Linked DNA regions of Homo sapiens: regions 1, 3 and 4 are each linked to region 2. Evidence: fine-mapped expression QTL. A gene starts in region 2. Each other region holds a variant in brackets. All regions are shown on one strand. Distances are from middle to middle. Region 1 overlaps PEDS1-UBE2V1 (PEDS1-UBE2V1 readthrough). Region 2 holds the start of PELATON (plaque enriched lncRNA in atherosclerotic and inflammatory bowel macrophage regulation). Region 3 holds the start of LINC01270 (long intergenic non-protein coding RNA 1270). Region 4 overlaps PELATON (plaque enriched lncRNA in atherosclerotic and inflammatory bowel macrophage regulation).

Region 1 (4,813 bases), 170 kb before region 2:
ATTTGCTTGCTGTTCCTTTAGGTATCACCCCAGTATGAGCCCCTTACCTCGGCAGCAAGAGCTGGTTCTGGGCTTCAGTGTCTTTTGCACTCCCCCAACCAGGCTTGCCCCTGCCCCGCAGGTGCCAGCAGCAGCAGAGGGGGCACCTTTTCCCCAAGTGCCAGGTTCTGACAGCCCAAGCTTCCTCTGCTGGCCTCCCAAACCCAGAGGGTGGTTACTGTTTCTGCAGCAGTATCTCTGTGTTCTCATATTGTGCCTTCTTTGATTTTTTAGTCCAACATCTATTTGATCAACTTCCTATATTAAATTATCTCTGTTGCCTAGTATTGGGTATCAATCCAAAGGAAATTAAATCAGTATCTCAAAGAGATCATCTGCACTTCCACACTCATTGCAGTTATTCACAATAGCCAATATATGGAAACAACTTAAATGTCCTAGAGAAAATATGGCATATATCACACAATGAAATATTATTCAGCCATAAATAAGAAATCCTGCCAGTCGGAGAATTGCTTGAACCTGGGAGGCGGGGGCTGCAGTGAGCCGAGATGGCGCCACTGCACTCCAGCCTGGGCAACAGTGCGAGACTCTGTCTCAAAAAAAAAAAAAAAAAGAAATCTTGCTAGTCATGACAACATAGATGAGCCTGAAGGACATTATGCTAAGTGAAATCAGCCAGACACAGAAAGACAAAAAGTGTATGATCTCAATTATACATGGAATCTAAAAGTAGAACTCACAGAAGCAGAGAACAGAACAGTGGTTGACAGGGACCAGGGTGTAAGGGGAGATACTGGTCAAAGGGCACAAACTTTCAGTTATGAGTAAGTTCTGGGAATCTAATGTAAAGCATGGTGACTACAGTTAATAATACTGGATTGTTTACTTGAAATTTGGTAAAAGAGTAGATCTTAAGTGTCCTTACCACAGACACACAAGGTAGCTACACGTGGTGATGGATGCGTTGATTAATTTGGTTGTGGTAATCATTACACAATGTATATCAAATCATCACACTGTATACCTTGGATATATACAGCTTTTATTTATCAATTACATCTCAATAAAGCTGGGAAAAAAATTAGCTGGTATGATTTCTCTTTTCCTGACTGACACAGAGTTAAAGCGGGACTAAGTTAACCTCTTATTCTATATACTCTGTATTGTTGGAAAAAAAATTTTTTTTGAGACAAGAGTCTCACTCTGTCACCCAGGTTGGAGTCCAGTGGTATGATCTTGGCCCACTGAAACCTCTGCCTCCTGGGTTCAAGCGATTCTCCCTCCTCAGCCTCTTGAGTAGCTGGGACTACAGGCGTGCATCACTACGCCCAGCTAATTTTTGTATTTTTAGTAGAGATGGGGTTTCAACATGTTGGCCAGGCTGGTCTCGACTCCTGACCTCAAGTGATTCACCTGCCTCGGCCTCCCAAAGCGCTGGGATTACAGGCGTGAATCACCACACCTGGGCTTTTGTCATTAAAAATTTTTACAAGAATATATTCATATTCATTAATCAGTCATATAACTTAAGGCTTTTTTTTTTTTTTTTTTGAGATGGAGTCTCGCTCTTGTTGCAAGCAGTGGCGCGATCTCGGCTTACTGCAACCTCTACCTCCCAGGTTCAAGTGATTCTCCTGCCTCAGCCTCCTGAGTCAGGCATCTGCCACCGCGCCCAGCTAATTTTTATACTTTTTTAGTAGCGACCGGGTTTCGCCATATTGGCCAGGCTGGTCTTGAACTCCTGACCTCAGGTGATCTGCCCGCCTTGGCCTCCCAAAGTGCTGGAATTACAGGCGTGAGTTACCACGCCCCGCCTCAAAGCTTTTAAAAAAGAGATCAGTCAATATGCACTGATATAGAAAGATGTCCACCATCTATTAGGTGAAAAAAAATTAAGTTGTAAAACATTATGCATAGGAAGATCCCATTTTTCTTAAAAAGATATATATTTACGTTTGCATACCCACAGCAAAAGTGGGTAGAACCACACCACACACCAACTTAAGTTTCATTCGATGGTGAGCATAATGAATCAGAGAAAGGATCACTTTTCTTTTACTTCCTACACCCCTGTAATTATGTTCAGTTCCTCTGAAGCATGGGTACCAGTACTCCAGGGTATAAACACACATCCAGGCTCTAATCCACACATAAAACACTTGGCCGGGTGTGGTGGGCTC[A/G]TGCCTGTAATCCCAGCACTTTGAGAGACCAAGGTGGGCGGATCACCTGAGGTCAGGAGTCTGAGACCAGCCTGGCCAACACGGCAAAAACCTGTCTCTACTAAAAATATAAAAATTAGCCGGGTGTGGTGGTATGTGCCTATAACCCCAGCGACTAGGGAGGCTGAGGCAGGAGAATCGCTTGAACCCGGGAGACAGAGACTGCCGTGAGCTGAAATCACGCCACTGCACTCCACCCTGGGCAACAGAATAAGACTCCATCTCAAAAAAACAGAAAAAACACTATTTTGGAGAACCCCAGAGGCTCAACAGTGCTCCTCGATGAGGGCCATTTTTGCCCCTCTGCTGGGAAGGGGAAGGGAGGATCAAGCGTTGCCTAGACACATTTATGGTTGCTGCAATGGAGACGGGGGTACTGCTGGCTTCTAGTGAGTAGAGGCCAGGGATGCTGCTAAACAGCCTACAACGCACATACCTAGCACTCTCATGACAAAGAAAAGAACCAGCCCTACATGCCACGTCTGAGAAACTCTGCTCTATATAACTTGACTATTGTTAGTACTTCTGTGGTCAAAGTAGAAATATTCCATGTCTAACGCTGTGGACAGCTAGACATTTGCCAGAATTGTGCAAGGAGCAGTTGGCTCAGAAGCTTTGTTTTTAGGTTTGGAGGATTTGCTTTTCTTTAAATAAACAAACAAACAAAAAAGGTGGGGGCACTATTCAAACAGCACACACATATGACTAAAACATTCAAAGAGTACAGAAGGGTATATGGTAAAAAGTAAGTTTCCTTTCCACTCCAGCCCTAGCCAGCCAGCTCCCTTCTGAAGAAGACAACCACTGTCAGCAGCTTCTTTCCCATTCCTCCAGAGGTATTCTAAGCACACAGAAGCAGTGTATGCATGAGCTCTTCCTCTGCACCCAAGGCCCCCCACTCCAACTGGCAGCATACTCTGTCTCCTGTTTTATAATTTACTTTTTCACAATATCATGGAGATCATTCCATTTCAGCACACATAAATCTGTCTCATTGTTCAACAGCTAAACAGGACATAATATGGTATACTCAAAGACAATGATGTTGTTTCCAATATTTTGCTACTACTGACAATGCTGCATGAAATAATTTTGTACACTGCCTTTGGGCAATACATTCAAGAGAAATTGGAAAGTAAATTCCTAGAAGAATTCCTGGATCACATGGTATAGACCTTTGAAATTTTGATGGAAAATGTTCTTTTGAGTAAAACAATAACAAAAACCTAATAGGGAGATGAGTTACTCAAGTGCTCTATTTAGATGCTTTAATAATTATGTGGATATTCGAGTTACACAGCAAATAGCTCATGTGCTAATCATGAAAGATTGGTCACAGGAAGCATCTACACACAGATAGTTCCTTTTATGACTTAGTTTCTGACCTTGGGGAACCAGGATAATAAAAACTACAAGGGTGAAAAGACAATAACAAGTGTTGGTGAGAATGTGGAGAAATGGGAACTTTCGGGCATTGCTAGTAGGAATGTAAAATGGTGCAGCCACTTTGGGAAACAGTTTGGCATTTCCTCCAAATGTTAAACACAGTTACCATATGATCCAGCAATTCCACTCCTAGGTATACACCCAGGGGAATTCAAAAATGTATCTCCGGCAGGGCGCGATGGCTCACACCTGTAATTCCAGCACTTTGGGAGGCCGAGGTGGGTAGATCATGAGGTCAGGAGTTCAAGACCAGCCTGGCTAAGATGGTGAAACCCCGTCTCTACTAAAAATACAAAATTAGCTGGGCGTGGTGGCGGGTACCTGTAATCCCAGCTACTCGGGAGGCTGAGGCAGAGAATTGCTTGAATCCGGGAGGTGGAGGTTGCAGTGAGCCGAGATTGCGCCACTGCACTCCAGCCTGGGAGACAGAGCGAGACTCCAACTCAAAAAAAAAAAAAAAAAAAAAAAAATAATAATAATAATAATAATAAAATATATATATATAAAATATATTATGTATGTTATATATATAATATATATAGGCTTGGAGGATTTGCTTTTATTTAAATAAAAATATATTATATATTATAATTATATATCTTATATATAATTATATGTAATATATATTACATATCATATATGTTATATAAATATACAGTATATATAATATATAACATATGCATTATATAATATATAATGCATTATATAATATATAATGCATTATATAATATATAATGCATTATATAATATATAATTATATATAATATATGTCCATCTTCAAAGGAGGAAAAATTAGGTAGCTAAAAACAACTATGTCCATCTATTCCAGCAGGTGTAGATAAAAAAATAAAAAGAAAATATATGTCCACATACAAACCTGTATATAAATGTTCCTAGAAGCATTATTTATAATAGCCAAAAGGTAGAAACAACCCAAATGTTCATCAACAAATGGAAAAACAAAATATGGCGTATCTGTACAATGGAATATTATTCAGCCATAAGAAGAATAAAAGTATTGATAGATGCTACAATATGCTTGAACCTTGAAAAAATTATGCTGAGTAAAGGAAGCCAGTCACAAAAGGCCACATACTGTAGAATTCCATTTATAATAGATGTTCAGAAAAAGCAAATTCATTGAG
Region 2 (4,813 bases):
CCGGCATGAACTGTAGCAACAATTTGGCTACCCGGGCCTCATTCTCTCCATCTGGAAAATGGGCACAGCATGTGCCTTTCTGCACAGTGAGGTCATGAAGGATTGATGAGGCAACACGCAAGGAGCGTAAGCCTAGGGCCTGGCACCCAGGAGGCCACCCCAGTGGGCCCTGCTGGGTTTCCGATTTCCCCTGTGACACCTCCTGGGGGCCGGATCCCCAGCGGGAGGAGGGATGAGGCCTGGGGGGCCTGGCTCTGGCACAATGCAGAGCATTGAGCTCATGCCAGCCTTGGCTTTGGGTTTGGACAAATACAGTAATCTGGGCAGGACTCACACAAAGACCTGGGGGCCAGGTCAGGCGAGGGGCGTCAGGTTACCCCTGTGGGCTGCAGCCACACAGGCGGCTTGGGGGGTGTATTTTTTTTCCCTAAAGATTATCATTAAATGAGCCCTCACCGAGGCCTCAGCAGGCAGGTTTCATTACAGGAAAAACTGAGGTATAGGGGTTTGCAGGCCTAACGGGACACGCTGTCACTGTGATAGGAACAGCATTAGCAATAATAACAGCTGTCCTTCCGGACTGGTTCCCAAGGGCTAGGCCCTAGGTGAATAATAAGCCTTTTCTCGATCCTTTCTGCAGCCCGAGAGGAAAGCCCCATGCTATCCCCATTTCATAGATGGGAAAACTGAGGCTTGAGGACACTTTGCGGCCTCCAAGGGCTGTTCTCTTCATTCCTCCAGCAGAGTGGATATGAGACGGTGCAGGGTCTGGAATGTCTGGGCAGAAGGAAGAGCTGGAGCAAAGGCCTGGAGGCTGGAGAGCGCTGTCGGGGGGCAAGTGGGGCAGTGTCCCACTGCGGGGTTTCATCTCAGCTCTGCCATGTCTTGGCTACGTGACCTCTGACACCCTACTGGGCCTCTTTGATCCCAGACTCACCTGTAGAATGGGTGTGTGAGAAGAAAACCTTCTGGAGCGGGGTGTTGAGGAGAGAACAGTGCCTGACACATCATAATAATAATGCTGAATAGATGTTATTTTCATTCCTAACCACTTCCTCCAGGAAGCCCATCCTGACCTCTAGCTCCCAAAGTCACCTGGACTTCCTCCATCACAGACCTTGCCACAGTGTGAGAAACTGCCTCATCCACACACCAGCTTCTCACCTCCACCCAGACCCTCTGATTGGGACTCCCCTGAAGACTGTGTCCCCAGAGCCCAGAAAGAGTCCAGCACAGAGCAGCTGAGGGGGCAGGTGCTGGTGAACAGTGTCAATGAGCCCCTGCTACTCACCAAGCCCTTCACACACGGGTCCTTCATTTAATGTCTTTCTTCTCCTAGATAGAACCTTGGCTTTGCCAAGACCGGTATAGTTGCTGCTCAAGAAATATGTGAGGAAATTGTTGAGATGAACCAGCACTCAGGGGAAGGGAGGCTTTCTGAGGCTGGGGCCTTAGCAGGTGGAGCTCCTGGGATAATAATAATAAGAAAGATGCCTGGACGCGGTGACTCACACCTGGAATCCCAGCAATTTGGGAGGCTAAGGCAGGCAGATCACTTCAGGCCAGGAGTTCAAGACCAGCCTGGTCAACATGGTGAAACCTGGTCTCTACTAAAAATACAAAAAATTAGCTGGGCCTGGTGGTGTGAGCCTATAGTCCTAGCTTCTCGGGAGGCTGAGGCTGGAGGGTCAATGATTGAACCTGGGAGGTGGAGCTTGTAGTGAGCCGAGATCGCGCCACTGCCACTGCACTCCAGGCTGGGCAACACAGTGAGACTCTGCCTCCAAAAAGAAAGACAACAATAATCATTAGTCTTTACTCTGCTCCAGGCACCAGGCTGAGTCTTCTCAGTTCATCTCCCCAGCAGATTAGTTCTATTATTGTTTCCATTTCACAGATGGGAAAATCAAGGCACAGGGAGGGGAGGTGGCTTACTCCAGGTCACACAGTTAGTGAGAGGCAGAGGCAGGATCAAAGCCAAGCCTGTTTGACTGAGGAGCCCGCCCCGAGACCTTAACCACACAACCCCTCCCTAGAAGGAAGGTGCCACTACTGGACACATTTTGGAGATGGAAACCAAGGCTAAGAGAGTCAGGATGGCCTGCCCATGTCTGGACACAGAAACTGAGGTTAAGCAGGAGATGCCCGAGGCGGGGTCCCTGTCTCCTAGGCCAGCACCCTGAAGAAGGGGTGGGAGACAACCCCCCACCCCCCAAGCTGTCCCCTGCTTGTTGGAGTTTCTGGTCAATACCCTGGCCTCTGTTACCCAGCCCAGCACCCAAGACGCTGCCTCTTCCGCCTGCCTGGAGTCTCGGGTGCCTTCACAATCGGATTCTCTGTCTCTGCAGCTGCTTTCCATTTGAGCCCTTTGTGCTGAAAATAAAAAAAATGAAAAGAAAACTTGGCACCACCCCTCTGCTTTGCTTCCTGGGGAGGAAGGAGGATCCCAGCTACTTCTTTCCCTCATTCTGGGGCCCAGAGATACCCACAGCCTGCCCGAGGTCACACAGCAGGGTTGGAGCCGGGACCCTGGCCTTAGACTCCCCTTCCAGTGCTCTACCCACTCTGGCCACTGCCTCTGATGTTCCTGGCTCTTCCTCTAGGCCCGTGAGGAGCAGAGAAATTAGGATGAATGTTCCCGAGCCCTACCACATGCTGGGCACTCTGCCATCCTGGGCTCACGAAACCCTCATGACAGCCCTGTGAGGTCCCGTCATCCCATTTAACCAACAAGGAAGCTGAGGCTCAGAGAGGGGAAGCGCCCAAGGTCACACAGCTGGGATGTGGCAGAGCTGGGGTTCCAGCTCCTGTTCCCATTGCTGGACAGCTGCCACATCTGGCACCCAATTTAGGACCCCGCGGGGAGGCCCAAGCCCCGGGGGTGGCGGGGGATCCTAGAGGAAAGTGGCAAGGCCAGGACCCTGGAGCAGAGCCAGGTAGGAACAATGGGTTCTCAGAGACCAAGGTGGCAGGGCGGGGCGGCTGCTGAGCAGGGGCGGCAGGGCGAGGTGGCGGGCGGGGCCCAGGAGACTTCATGCTCCCGCCTCCTACTCCAGCTCCCTGTTTGGGATCTGGGGACGCTCCAAGCACCTCAGCTTCTCAACCTGGACAGACCCACGGCTCCAGCAGGAGGCAGGGCCAGCCCTGTGTATAACCATAAATATAATGGGCAATAATCAGATTTCACGCTTACCGAGCCCTACTACAGGCCAGACACTGGGTCAAGGGTCCTTCCTGGGTCATCACAATCAGCCTAGGAGGTGCAATTAGGATTAGTGGCTTTTTACAGATGCGGAAACAGAGGTCCAGGGAGCTACTCAGCACCTGCTGTGCCAGGACAAAGAACTTTGGGAAGTGGGGCCCTCAGAGGGTGGGTACCCTGTTCCCAGAGGCAGGAAAGTTGAGGTGGACTGGACTCAGTGGGGCTCAGTGGGACACCGTGGGGAGTCAGTGCTCTCTGGGGGCGAGATGAATTAGAGGGAGCCCTTTTGGTTTTTTAGAATCTGAACATGGGGCGGGGGAAGCAGAGATGTGGGGAGCAGATGAAGCCTCCCTGGCACTGCTGGGAGGATTAAAGGACTTGATGGACACCCAGGGCTTGGAAATGTACCTGGTAGAGAGTAGGTGCTCAGGGAACAACTCCTGTTTGCAGAAACAGCAACTCACACTTAGGGAGCCTGCTGTGCATCTGAACCCCGTGCTTGGGTGTTTCTGACCCCCTTCCAGCTCTCATCCCTCCTCTCTCCATTTTCTCCCCTGTCTCAGGTTCATTCCTATGTTTCCTCTTGCCCCAATTAGGCCATCTTCTATGACTGCAACAGTAAAAATATTAATTAAATCTTATAACATGAAGTCTAACGTGGGGCCATTCCAGTGTTCCAGGGCAGGCTCCCTGCGCTCTAGGTAGGCATCTCTTCACTTCTCTTTCTTCATGGGCCCCAGTGCCTGCTGTGGCTCAAGACATCACGTCCCACATGATCACATCCTAACTAGGAAGAGATGAACAGAAAAGGGGACTTTCTCCTCCAGGATCTCACTTTTTTTTTTTTTTTTTTTTTTGAGACAGAGTCTTGCTCTGTTGCCCAGGCTGGAGTGCAATGGCACGATCTCGGCTTACTGCAACCTCCGCCTCCTGGGTTCAAGCGATTCTCCTACCTCAGCCTCCCACATAGCTGGGATTACAGGCGTGGGCCACCACTCCCAGCTAATTTTTTGTATTTTTAGTAGAGATGAATTTTCACCATGTTGGCCAGGCTGGTCTCAAACTCCTGACTTCAGGTGATCCACCCACCTCAGCCTCCCAAAAGTGCTAGGATTACAGGCGTGAGCCACCGTGCCCAGCCAACAATTTTTCTTACATGTCCCAGTGGATGTCCCCTGGTGTCTCATGGAATGATGGGCTCACATGTCCACATTTGAACCAGAAAGGAATTCCCGTGGCTGACTCAGGCCAATTAGGGTTCAGCCTGTCTGGCTGCTCCAAAGAGATGTGGGCTCCGAAGGTGATGGGGGCACGGCTGGGCTGGCCACCAGCTGGAGTCTCACTGACGGCCTAAGTGGCACAGTGGGCCTGGGTTTGCTCGGCCTTCTCTGGCTGGTCCTCTTGGCAGCGTCTGCCCCCTGGGTAACTGCCCCCTCCTTGAGCACAGTCTTCCCCAGCCTCTTGATGGCGGCTTGCTGGTCTCGCTGGTTCTCCTCTTACTTCCCTGCCCGTTCCTCCTTGGGCCTTGAAAACGACCCCTCTCCTGCCTTCATCTGACCCTTGCCCCGTGAGCTCAGCTGTGCGGGGTCCCTCGTGCCTTTATGCGGGCTC
Region 3 (4,813 bases), 24 kb after region 2:
TGGACTGTGGGGGGCCAGGATGTTGTGATGAGAGCAGAGAACCCAGCAGAGATGACTCCCCTAGTCTAGGACAAAAGGAGGGCGATGGCAGCAGAGGTGGGAGAAGGGACTGGATTCTGTTTGGAAGGCAAAGCCAGCAGGATTTGTTGGATTGGGCGAGGGAGATGTTGGAGTGGATAGGTGGATGCAGGCGCTATCGTTTGCTGAGATGGGGAACTGGTTTGAGGGGCCAACTTCATAGGTCTAGGGCAGGGCCCAGAACCTGGCGTGGTCACAACCTGGCCTCAGGGGGTGCTGAGTTTTTCACACTGTGCTTCAAAGAATTTAAGTGTCCAGAGGATGTACACTGGGGAAGGGTCTCTTCTACCGGTGCAGATGGGAACAAGTGGGCAGGCGGCCTTTCCTTGCCAGCAGACCAGGAGACTCTAAGATGCTTTTTCAAGGGAGTCAGAGGATCAGCCTCATTGGAGGACTGGTTCCAAAAGGCAGCCTCACAGCCAGGCGCGATAGCTCATGCCTGTAATCCCAGCACTCTGGGAGGCTGAGATGGGAGGATTGTGTGAGCCTAAGAGTTAGAGACTAGCCTGGGCAACATGGCGAAACCCTGTCTCTAAAAGAAAATAAATAAATAATAATAAAAATTAGAATAAAATAAAAGAAGGGATTCTGAGACTGAAAAAAGCCAAACTCAGGTGCTGCCAGGGCTGGGCAAGCAGCACTCATGGTGAAGTGGTGGGAGAGGGGTGCAGGCCTGTCTAAAGGGGTGGACGCTGCTCAGTTTCTGCCAGTGTCGCCCCGTGGGAAGCCGGGACTGACAGTTTTTCATGAGAAGCTGTAAATCTAGATCGGGGTGTCCAACCTTTTGGCTTCCCTGGGCCACACATAAAATACACTAACACTAACGATAGCTGATGAGCTAAAAAGAAAAAATCGCAAACAAAATCTCATGTTTTAAGAAACATTATGAATTTGTGTGGGGCCGTATTCATAGCCATCCTGGGCCACATGTGGCCTGTTGTTCGCGGGTTGGACAAGCTTGATCTAGATTGCTATATGAAACCTGTTGATATTTAAATGTTAGGGCAAATATCAGGCCAGGTTTGGCCTGAAGGCCGTGAGTTTGAGGCCTCTGTGATACTGCAGCCCTTCTATTTTGCAGGTAAGGAGCTGGCGGGGAGAGTTAGCACAGCTGCCTCCGAGCCTGGCAGATGGTCCTGGATCGGGGCTGGACGGGGTGACTTGGAGAGGTGGTGCTTGGACTCAACTGTGAAGAAGGGTCAGATTCCCACAAAAAAGAGGAGAGGGCATTGCAGGGGGCGGAGGAGTGTGAGCGAGCATGTGTGGCGGGAATATGGAAGACTGTTTTCCAGGTGGAGGGAGGTAAGAAGACGGGGAACTGGAAAAAGAGTTGAAGGAGACGGGTTGATGAGGATGATGGGGAATACACGGACACGGAAGGTCAGACTGGACCCAAAAGAGGGTTGGAAAAATCACCCAAACACTTCAATAATATTAGTAACTTCACTTCTGAAATTGTGTGGCAACAAGCAGCGCGTTTATTTTACCACTTACTTCGGGTTCTTGGCAACCCTGCGTACACCAGGGAACGCTTGCCCAACAAGAAACATTCTCACTCGCAGATTGTTTACAAACGCCTCGAAAATTTTTGTAATATTTTTGTAAATATTAAATTAGAAATTTAATATAGAATTATAAAGTGTGAGTGGGTTAATTAAAGATTTTAAAATTTCAACTTAGCAGGTTTTTCTTTTTCTTTTTTTTGAGACAGGGTCGCGCCTAGCAGGCTGGAGTGCAGTGGTACAATCTCAGCTCACTGCAACCTCCACATCCCGGGTTCAAGTGATTCTCCCACATCGGCCTCCTGAGTAGCTGGGACTACAGGCATGCACCACCACACCTGGCTAAGTTTTGTATTTTTTGATAGAGACAGGGTTTCACCATGTTGGCCAGGCTGGTCTCCAACTCCTGACTGCAAGTGATCCACCTGCCTCGGCCTCCCAAAGTGCTGGGATTACAGTAGTGAGCCACCACACCTGGCCAGCAGATTTCTTTAAGTATTTTAGAGGCAATATTTTTTCCCCAAAATCTCCCTTGTGCAAATTTTCTACCTCACAGCTGCCAAAATTTGAGGTGGTGGACAAAAATAGTTGATATATAATGATAGAAAGACGTAAGTGAGGTATATATATAGAGAGAGTCTAGAAAGAGTTCGCTTTCAAAGGGGAGGATCAGGGCAGTCTCCCTGGAGGAGGAGGTTTTGAATACGTGCGTTGAAGGGTGGGTGAAATCCAGACCAGGCAGGTGGGTTAGGGAAAGTGAGGGCATGCCGGGTGAAGGGCCCTGTGTGTGCACAAGGGTGAGGTGGGAATGATGAGTGTGAGAGTTTGTACCAAGGGGGCTGGGGCTGGGGTGCCAAGAACCAAAGAGCCATGATAAGGCCTGTCTGGGGCTCAGCCAAACTGGGGAGTAGTACACGAGAAGAGGAATGGGGAGCCCTAGAGGGTTTTAAGTAGGGGAGGAACGTGGAGTCCATAGCAAGGCAGAGTGGCTGGTGGGGAGGTGGGGAGGATGCCATGGCAACCATTCACGCCAAGCCTCAGCCCCGA[C/T]CCTCAAGGAGGCAGGCAAGGCTGAGCTTCCCTTTCCAGATTGTTTGTGGGTGCAAAAGGGCAGCAAAGAATGTGGGTGCCTTGTCCTTCTGCCCATGGTCTAGTGTCCTTCCCCTCACCCCAGTCCCAGTGGAGCCATCATAGGTGAAATATAAGAACAAGTCACCTGCGTTCAGTGGCTGCAGAATACCTGGCCTCGCACAGAAGGCTGCGGGGATTTCTGCTCATTCATTCTTCCCACCTGCCGCATGAGGGAGGTGCTATGTCCATTTTACAGAGGACACTGAGTCCCAGAGAGGCTAAGCGGCATGCCCGAGGTTACACAGCCAAGAAGGGGCACAGCAAGATTCAACCCAAAAGTCTGCACTCCAGCCACTGCCCTATCATGACACTCACGAGCTCCCACCAAGTCTGGCTCCAGTGTTTCCAGTACCATAATCATCCCCATTTACCAGATGGGTAAACTGAGGCTCTGAGAGGTGGAGTCACTTGCCTGAGGCCATACAGCAGGAAGGGTAAAAGTAAAGATTTGAATCCCTGGGTCTAGTCGACTCTGGAGCCTGCTGTTCTCCCACCATACACCTCAGCTGCTCGCCCTCCTGGGCATCTGTTTCCTCATCTGATGAACAGGGGTGACGGCGATGCCTCCCTGGCAAGGTCCGCAGAGGATCCCGGGTGGTGTATGTCAATCACCCAGCTCAGTGCCTGGCACTCAGTGGATGCTTTAAACGTGATGCCTGTGTTTATTCGTATAAAGGTGGCTGAATATTAAATGGGTGGATTTATGGAAGGCACTTATGGTAATGCCCTGTACATAATAGATGCTCAAGAAACACTAGAAGCAGTTACTATGATTATAGGATCGACCACAGGGGACAGCCCAGTAACCCCTCAAAGTTGCTTCCTTCCCAAGTTGCCTTCCATTTATTTCTCCCTTCATCCAACACACTGGCCTTAGGGTCCAGGTTAGGATTTGGGGGCTTGGGGGGCTTAGGTTACAATTTGAGGTGATTTGTCCCCCCCTGCCCATCAGTCAGAGTGATGCTGAGAGCACTGGATGATAAGACCAGAATTCTAGGTCCGCGCCCCGGACCTGCTGTGTGATCTCTGGCAACTGCCTTGCCCTCTCTGGGCCTTGGTTTCTCCTTTCATCTGCAGAGCCTGGGCCAGGCTGCCCTGGGAGGTGCCAGCCCCGAATGGGGCCGGGGGCAGTTCCTGTGTCCCCTTGGCCACCAGCCTCCATCTCCTGCCTCTTGAGCTGCAGGCCCGCCCGGCTCAGCTGTGACGACGAACCAGCCAATCTGTTTACTGAACTGGCTGACCCCTTCCGGGAACTCGGCCCAAGCTTCCCAGAACTCGGGTATTAATGACCCGGAGCCACATGACGGAGCATGACACAGCACTTTTGGGCACAAGGCAGGGCCCAGAGGGGTGCGTGGGGGCCGCAGCCCAGCCCCCAAGCCCCGCCAGCGGGTGAGTCACCTGGGCCCCCTGCAGCTTCCTGATCCCGGCCACTCAGCTGTCCTCCCCACCCCCAGGATATCCCCAGTTGTCAGGGCTGCCCTGGGACCCCTCGACCTTTGCACTAGGGACTTAGCAGCCGTCTTGGGTGATCAGGGCTGCCTTCTGGGATTACAGATGGGGACAGTGAGGCCTGCAGGACTGGAGTGAATGAACAGTGAGCTCTGAGTAAACGTCCACTGTGCGGGAGGCACTGTGCAAATACGTCACGTTAGTCTCGCAGCGATGCAACACAGTGGCGTAGTTTAATCCCCATATGATAGATGGGGAAACTGAGGCTCAGAGCGGGAATGAATTCTCCCAAGGGCATGCAACAAGAGCACTCTGTTTGACTGGAAATAATTTCCTTTCGTCTCCTCAGCAGCCGACAAGGGAGGTGCCATGTGGACTGTTTCACAGCTGGAGAAACTGAGGCACAGAGGGGCTGAGTCACCTGCCTAACGCACTGAGCAGTCTGGCTCCAGGACCTGTGCTCTGAACCAGCACCTGGCACATAGCTGGCACCGACATGGTCTCCGTGCACTGCCATGGATGAGAGCAATGCTGGCTGCGGTGTCGGGCGGAGCTGGGTTCCAATGCTGACTTCACCTTTCTCAGGCTGCACAGCCTGGAGCACGTGGCTGCACCCTACCGTGCGTCAGTTTCCTCACCTGTGAAGGGTGATC
Region 4 (4,813 bases), 11 kb after region 2:
TCTGGCTCAGGGGACAGTGGGAAGGTACTTTCTGCGAGTTGTCCCAGAGGCCTCTAGGGGGTTGGGCTCCTGTTGCCCACTGAGGAGACCTGCTCATCTACCTTCCTTGTGTCACTTCCTCACTCCTTCCCAGTGTTTCTAGAATCACCTCCCAAATATCCCACTTGCACCCAAAACCTTGTCTTGGGTCAGCTTCTGGGAGCCGACCTAAGCCAGCAGCTATAATGCTCAGGGCTTAAGAGCTTTGGAATCAGATGGACCTGAGTGTGAATCCCGCCCCTGCCACTTAACCTGAGTGTGAACTTGGGAGCCTGCCCCACCTCTCGGAACCTCAGTTCCTCCATCTATGAAAAGGGAACTTACGTGCAGAAAACCAAGTGACTATGAGGGGGATGGGGCAGTGTGAGATGACGGGACCAGAGCACGTTCCTGGCTGCAGAGGCCACAAGTCACGCTGTCTCTGAGAGGTATGGGGACAGGGGCGCAGAGGAAGAATGATCGCGAGTCCTCAGCCCTGTTTGGCTGACGGGGGACAGGGATGGGTGGGAAAGAGGTACAGCGTTTTTCCACCTTCCCCACCCATCACCCCTGAGATTCCAAATGAACATCGGGACCAACCCCGGGAGCCCAGCGGATGTTCAGGGTAGGGCAAAGAACAGGTGCCAAGTTTGCTCCCTGGGGTGTGAGACTGGGCAGCCTCAAGAGCTGCATTGGTAGGACTTTCACCAGGTAGACAGCAGGCACCTCGCCCCTGCAGATCACAGCTTCCAGGGCCACCTGTCCACAGAATCCCTTCACTGATCTGTGCTTGAGGCAGGGGTGTGTGGACTGGGAGTCCTTCTTTTACTCTGGGTGGGGCCTCATGCTCAGAGGGAGCTCTGTCTACCCCCACCACAAACCTGCAGTTTCCCTGCTACAGCGATGGCAACCTCAGCCACCTGGCTGCCCAGGCCCCCAACCTGGGTTCTCCCTCTTGTTCCCATGGTCAGCCCATCAGCAAACTCATCCACATGTCCAAGGGTCCACCCCCACTACCCTGCCCTGCCCTGGTCCAGCTAGGATGTTTGCAGTCGTCTCCTCATTGGTCTCCCTGCCTCCTCTCTCGCCTTCCTAAGCCAGAGGAATTCTGTAAGAGCTCAAGTTAGATCCTATCCCTTCTCTGCTCAGAACCCTCTATGGCTCCCAACTCACTCAGAGCAGAAGCCCACAGGGCCTGCAGGATCTCTGCCCTGGCCCCGCCTGACCTCACTGCCTCTCCCTTCTCTGTTCACCCACAGCCACGGTGGCCTCATCTCTCTGCCATAAACTTGCCAATTATCCTGCTGCTGCCTCATTGACTTCGCACCCACTCTTCCCTCTGGAACAGAGGACACTCTCGCCAGCTCTCCCCATGGCGGATCCTTGTCTAGGGTCAGGCCTCTGCTCCAAAGTCACCCCTGGGGACACCTTCTCTGACCAGCCCCTCATTCCTATGGCCTCATGCTGTTTTTATTTCTTCCTAGGACTTAGCACGTATCCTAGAAATTAACCTGCTGGTATATCCTGTTTCTTGTCTGTCTCTTTCCAGTGGAATGTCACCATCGCCCAGGTGGGGATTTTTGTGTGTTTTGTTCACTGCTGTACACCCAGCCCCCAGCACAGCGCCTGTCCAGGACAAGTGCCCAGTAAACACTTGGGAAGCAATGCAAGCGTGCGTGCATGGATAAGTATTTCTTTGGCAGATGAGGGGGCTAAGGTTCAGAGAAGGCCCTGGGGGTCTCAGACTCATAGCCCAGTGCTCTTTCTGCTGACACGCCCTGGTCTCTGGGGCAGTTTGTTGCCTGTTCAGCAACAAAGAGGGTGTGCCTCGTTAGGGGTCCTGCGTGCGAATCGCAGTCCCTGCGTGTCTTGGCTGGAGGTCACCACCCTCTCTGCTCCAGGGCCTGTAATTACCACTTACCCTGGTCAATGGGTCCGAGAGATTACCCTTGTAGGCAGGGCTGTGGCCAGGGTGCTCACCTGGCCCCCAGCAGGTCCCATGGGCACTGTCTGGCCGGGCTTCATGGCTGACATTCCAGGTACATTTCTAGCCCTGGGCTGCCATGGGCAGAGGGTGGGGAGAGGGTCGTGGGCTTCAGGCTGGACAAACCAGTCAGCCTTCCCAGCTGGGCCGCCTGACCACCCACTTCCTGTGGGGCTCCTTGAGGCCTGGAGGGTGGAGGGGGTCTCTGTTCAACCCCCACCCATGCCCTCTTCCCTTCTCTCCCTCGGCAG[G/T]TCCTCCCAGCAGCTCCTGCAAACAGACCCCCGACCCAAGCCCTTCCTTCTGCCTCCACTGCCACCACTGCTGCTCATCTCTGCTGGCACAGAAGTCTCTTCCCTGGTCTTCCAGAAATCCCCTCTCCACACTCAGCCAGAGGGAGCTATTAAAACTGTGGGCCAGCCCACATCAGTCCACAGCAAAGTCCTCTCTAAGGGATCTCTGTTGCTTGGAGAATAAACCCTCGGATTCCTTCCTTGGCTCTCGGGGCCTCCTCTCTGACCTCCCTCTGTCTCCTCTCCCAGCCTTCCTCCTCACTCACCCTCCAGCCATGCTGGCTTCCTCCTTGCTCCTGAAACAGCCTGAGGCCCACACTGCCCCGGGCCCTTTGCACTGGCTGTTTCCTCTGCCTGGAACACTTCTCCTAGGCATCCACAGGGCTCCCTCCCACAACTCCTTCGGGTGCCCACATGGGAAGCCATCCCTGACCACCCCCCCGACTTCCTTCTGAGCAAGGTAGGGTCTTTCTACCTAGTCATGAGGGCAGGGATTTTTGTCTGTTGTGTTCTCTGTGTGCCCCCAGTGCCATCCCAGTGCCTGGCAGATGGTAAGTGCTCGACACACATTGGCTGACTGCCTGAATGAACAACTCTATGAGCCGATGGCAGATAAGGACACTGAGGTCCTCTGGGGTAGGTGACCAGCCCAAGGCCACACAGCTGGTCTGAGATTAGGCCAGGAGAGGAGCCCGGGTTGGTCACATCCTGGAGTTGGCGTCTTGGAAACTGCATCAGGAGAATAACAAAGATGAGACGCAGGCTCTAACAAGTGGATACCAGTGACTCTCGCCCCGCCAGCCCCAGCCCTGCAGCCTTGGGCCCTTCCAGGAGTCATGGTCTGCCTGCCTGGGGCATTCCAGGCTTCGACCCAGGTCCTGCACTTTCTATTTTGAGCCTCTTAGTCCTGAGGACTGTGTGTTCCCAGCAGGCGGCGCGGGCCAGAGGCTGAGCCTGGGTGTGGCTGTCACCCTATCTGGGGCCAGAGACCCAGATTCCCGGGCCCTTAACCTGTTGGCTGCTGAGGGCTCTGGCATAAGCCCTGTTCCCTGCTTGATTGTCTCCCCTTCAAGCCCCTGCCCTGGTATCGTATCGGCCCATCTCACCTTGGATTATATCCCTGTTTGGCCCCATTTGAATCCTGGCTCTGCCCCTTTCCAGCAATGTGACCTTGGGCAAGTCACTTCATCTCTCTGGGTCTCAGTTTCTTCATCTGGGAAATGGGGACAATAAGAGTACCTGTCTCTGGCCATGTGTGGTGACTCATGCCTGTAACCCCAGCGCTTTGGGAAGCCGAGGCGAGAGAATTGCTTGAGACCAGGAGTTTGAGATCAGCCCTGGGCAACATAGTGAGACCCCTGTCTCTACAAAATTCTAAAAAAATTAGCCGGGTGTGGTGGTGTGTGCCTGTAGTCCCAGCTATTCTAGAGGCTGAGGCGGGAGGATTGCTTGAGCCCAGGAGTTTGAGGCTGCAGTGAGCTATGATTATGCCCCTGCACATCAGCCTGGGTGATAGATTGAGGCCCCATCTCTAAAAATAACAATACTAATAATAAATAAAAATGAAAATGAGTACCTGTCTTCTGGGGTTGCAGAGGAGATTCAATGTGATGAAATTGATGAGAGTGCCCTGCAGGGAGCCGGAAACTCAGGGAGCATCGATAATGAGTCCCCCACCATCAGCAGCTGGCTTAAATATAAAAACTGTCATGGCCTCTGGAGAAATGACAAGAATTCGAAGGAGCTTCCCTGCACTGGCCACCCTACACCCTACACCCTTACTTCCTCCCCTCAACTTGCCTGGATTTATCGACCCCCACTACCCCACTGGTTGCCTTCTCTCCACCTGGCACATTTCGTATGAATTTGCTTGTTGGTTCTTGCCTATCTCCCCAGTAGAACATTAGCTCCTTCAGGACAGGGACTTTTGTCTACCTTATGCACCTAGTGCAATGCCTGGCACACAGTCGGTGCTTAATAAATGTTTCTTAAAAGAACCAATAAATGAATAGTGACCTCTCCGGGGAGAGGAGCCCTGAGCTCACCTCCTGCCCCCAGCCCAGGGCTCTTAGGTGCTTGTTGGTGTCAGGCCCAGGCCCCCCTCTCATCAAGCAGCCAATAAAACTGCCCTGGTTGGCGTTCTCATTTCACAGATGGAGAGACTGAGCCCAGAGAGGGAGAGTCACCTGTCTGATGTCACACAGAGGTCAGCATCTGGGCTGGGATTCCAGCCCAGGACCATGTGGGGTGGGGGGCAGTGGATCAATCTTTTCCTGGAGGGAGTCAATGGTGATGGTGGGAATGGGTCAGGGGTGCTGGCAAGGAGGGTCCAAGGCCCCCAGGAGGGAGGGAGGCATGGGAGATGAGTTTGTCCCTCTTGAGTTCTGTCTCTCTCTGTGTCTCTCTGTTTCTGCCTCTTTCTGTCTCCTTGTATTTCTCAGTCCCTGTCTTCGTCTATACCTCTTTCTCTCTTCCTTGTGTATCTGACCCACTGCCCAGGAGGGGATGCAGGCAGAGACCC

What was found.
Region 1: its variant is fine-mapped to the expression of PELATON in whole blood (TOPMed, PIP above 0.99).
Region 3: its variant is fine-mapped to the expression of PELATON in whole blood (TOPMed, PIP above 0.99).
Region 4: its variant is fine-mapped to the expression of PELATON in whole blood (INTERVAL, PIP above 0.99).

Annotation. Positions count from the first base shown.
Region 1 is chr20:50,089,875-50,094,687 of GRCh38, forward strand. All of the region lies in intron 6 of PEDS1-UBE2V1 (PEDS1-UBE2V1 readthrough), which reads right to left. All of the region lies in intron 2 of UBE2V1 (ubiquitin conjugating enzyme E2 V1), which reads right to left. Among named protein-coding and RNA genes, the nearest start is that of UBE2V1, 21 kb to the right of the region's middle. The variant A/G (reference allele first, on the strand shown) is at 2,184.
Region 2 is chr20:50,264,728-50,269,540 of GRCh38, forward strand. It overlaps PELATON (plaque enriched lncRNA in atherosclerotic and inflammatory bowel macrophage regulation), which reads left to right and starts at 2,751. Exons shown (of 4, transcript NR_170992.1): 1 at 2,751-2,936.
Region 3 is chr20:50,288,731-50,293,543 of GRCh38, forward strand. LINC01270 (long intergenic non-protein coding RNA 1270) reads left to right here and starts at 3,990. Exons shown (of 5, transcript NR_034124.1): 1 at 3,990-4,100. RefSeq lists an enhancer at 3,543-4,279. The variant C/T (reference allele first, on the strand shown) is at 2,628.
Region 4 is chr20:50,275,924-50,280,736 of GRCh38, forward strand. It overlaps PELATON (plaque enriched lncRNA in atherosclerotic and inflammatory bowel macrophage regulation), which reads left to right. Exons shown (of 4, transcript NR_170992.1): 3 at 1,568-1,690; 4 at 2,254-3,865. Among named protein-coding and RNA genes, the nearest start is that of PELATON, 11 kb to the left of the region's middle. RefSeq lists enhancers at 1,549-2,086, 3,089-3,383. The variant G/T (reference allele first, on the strand shown) is at 2,254.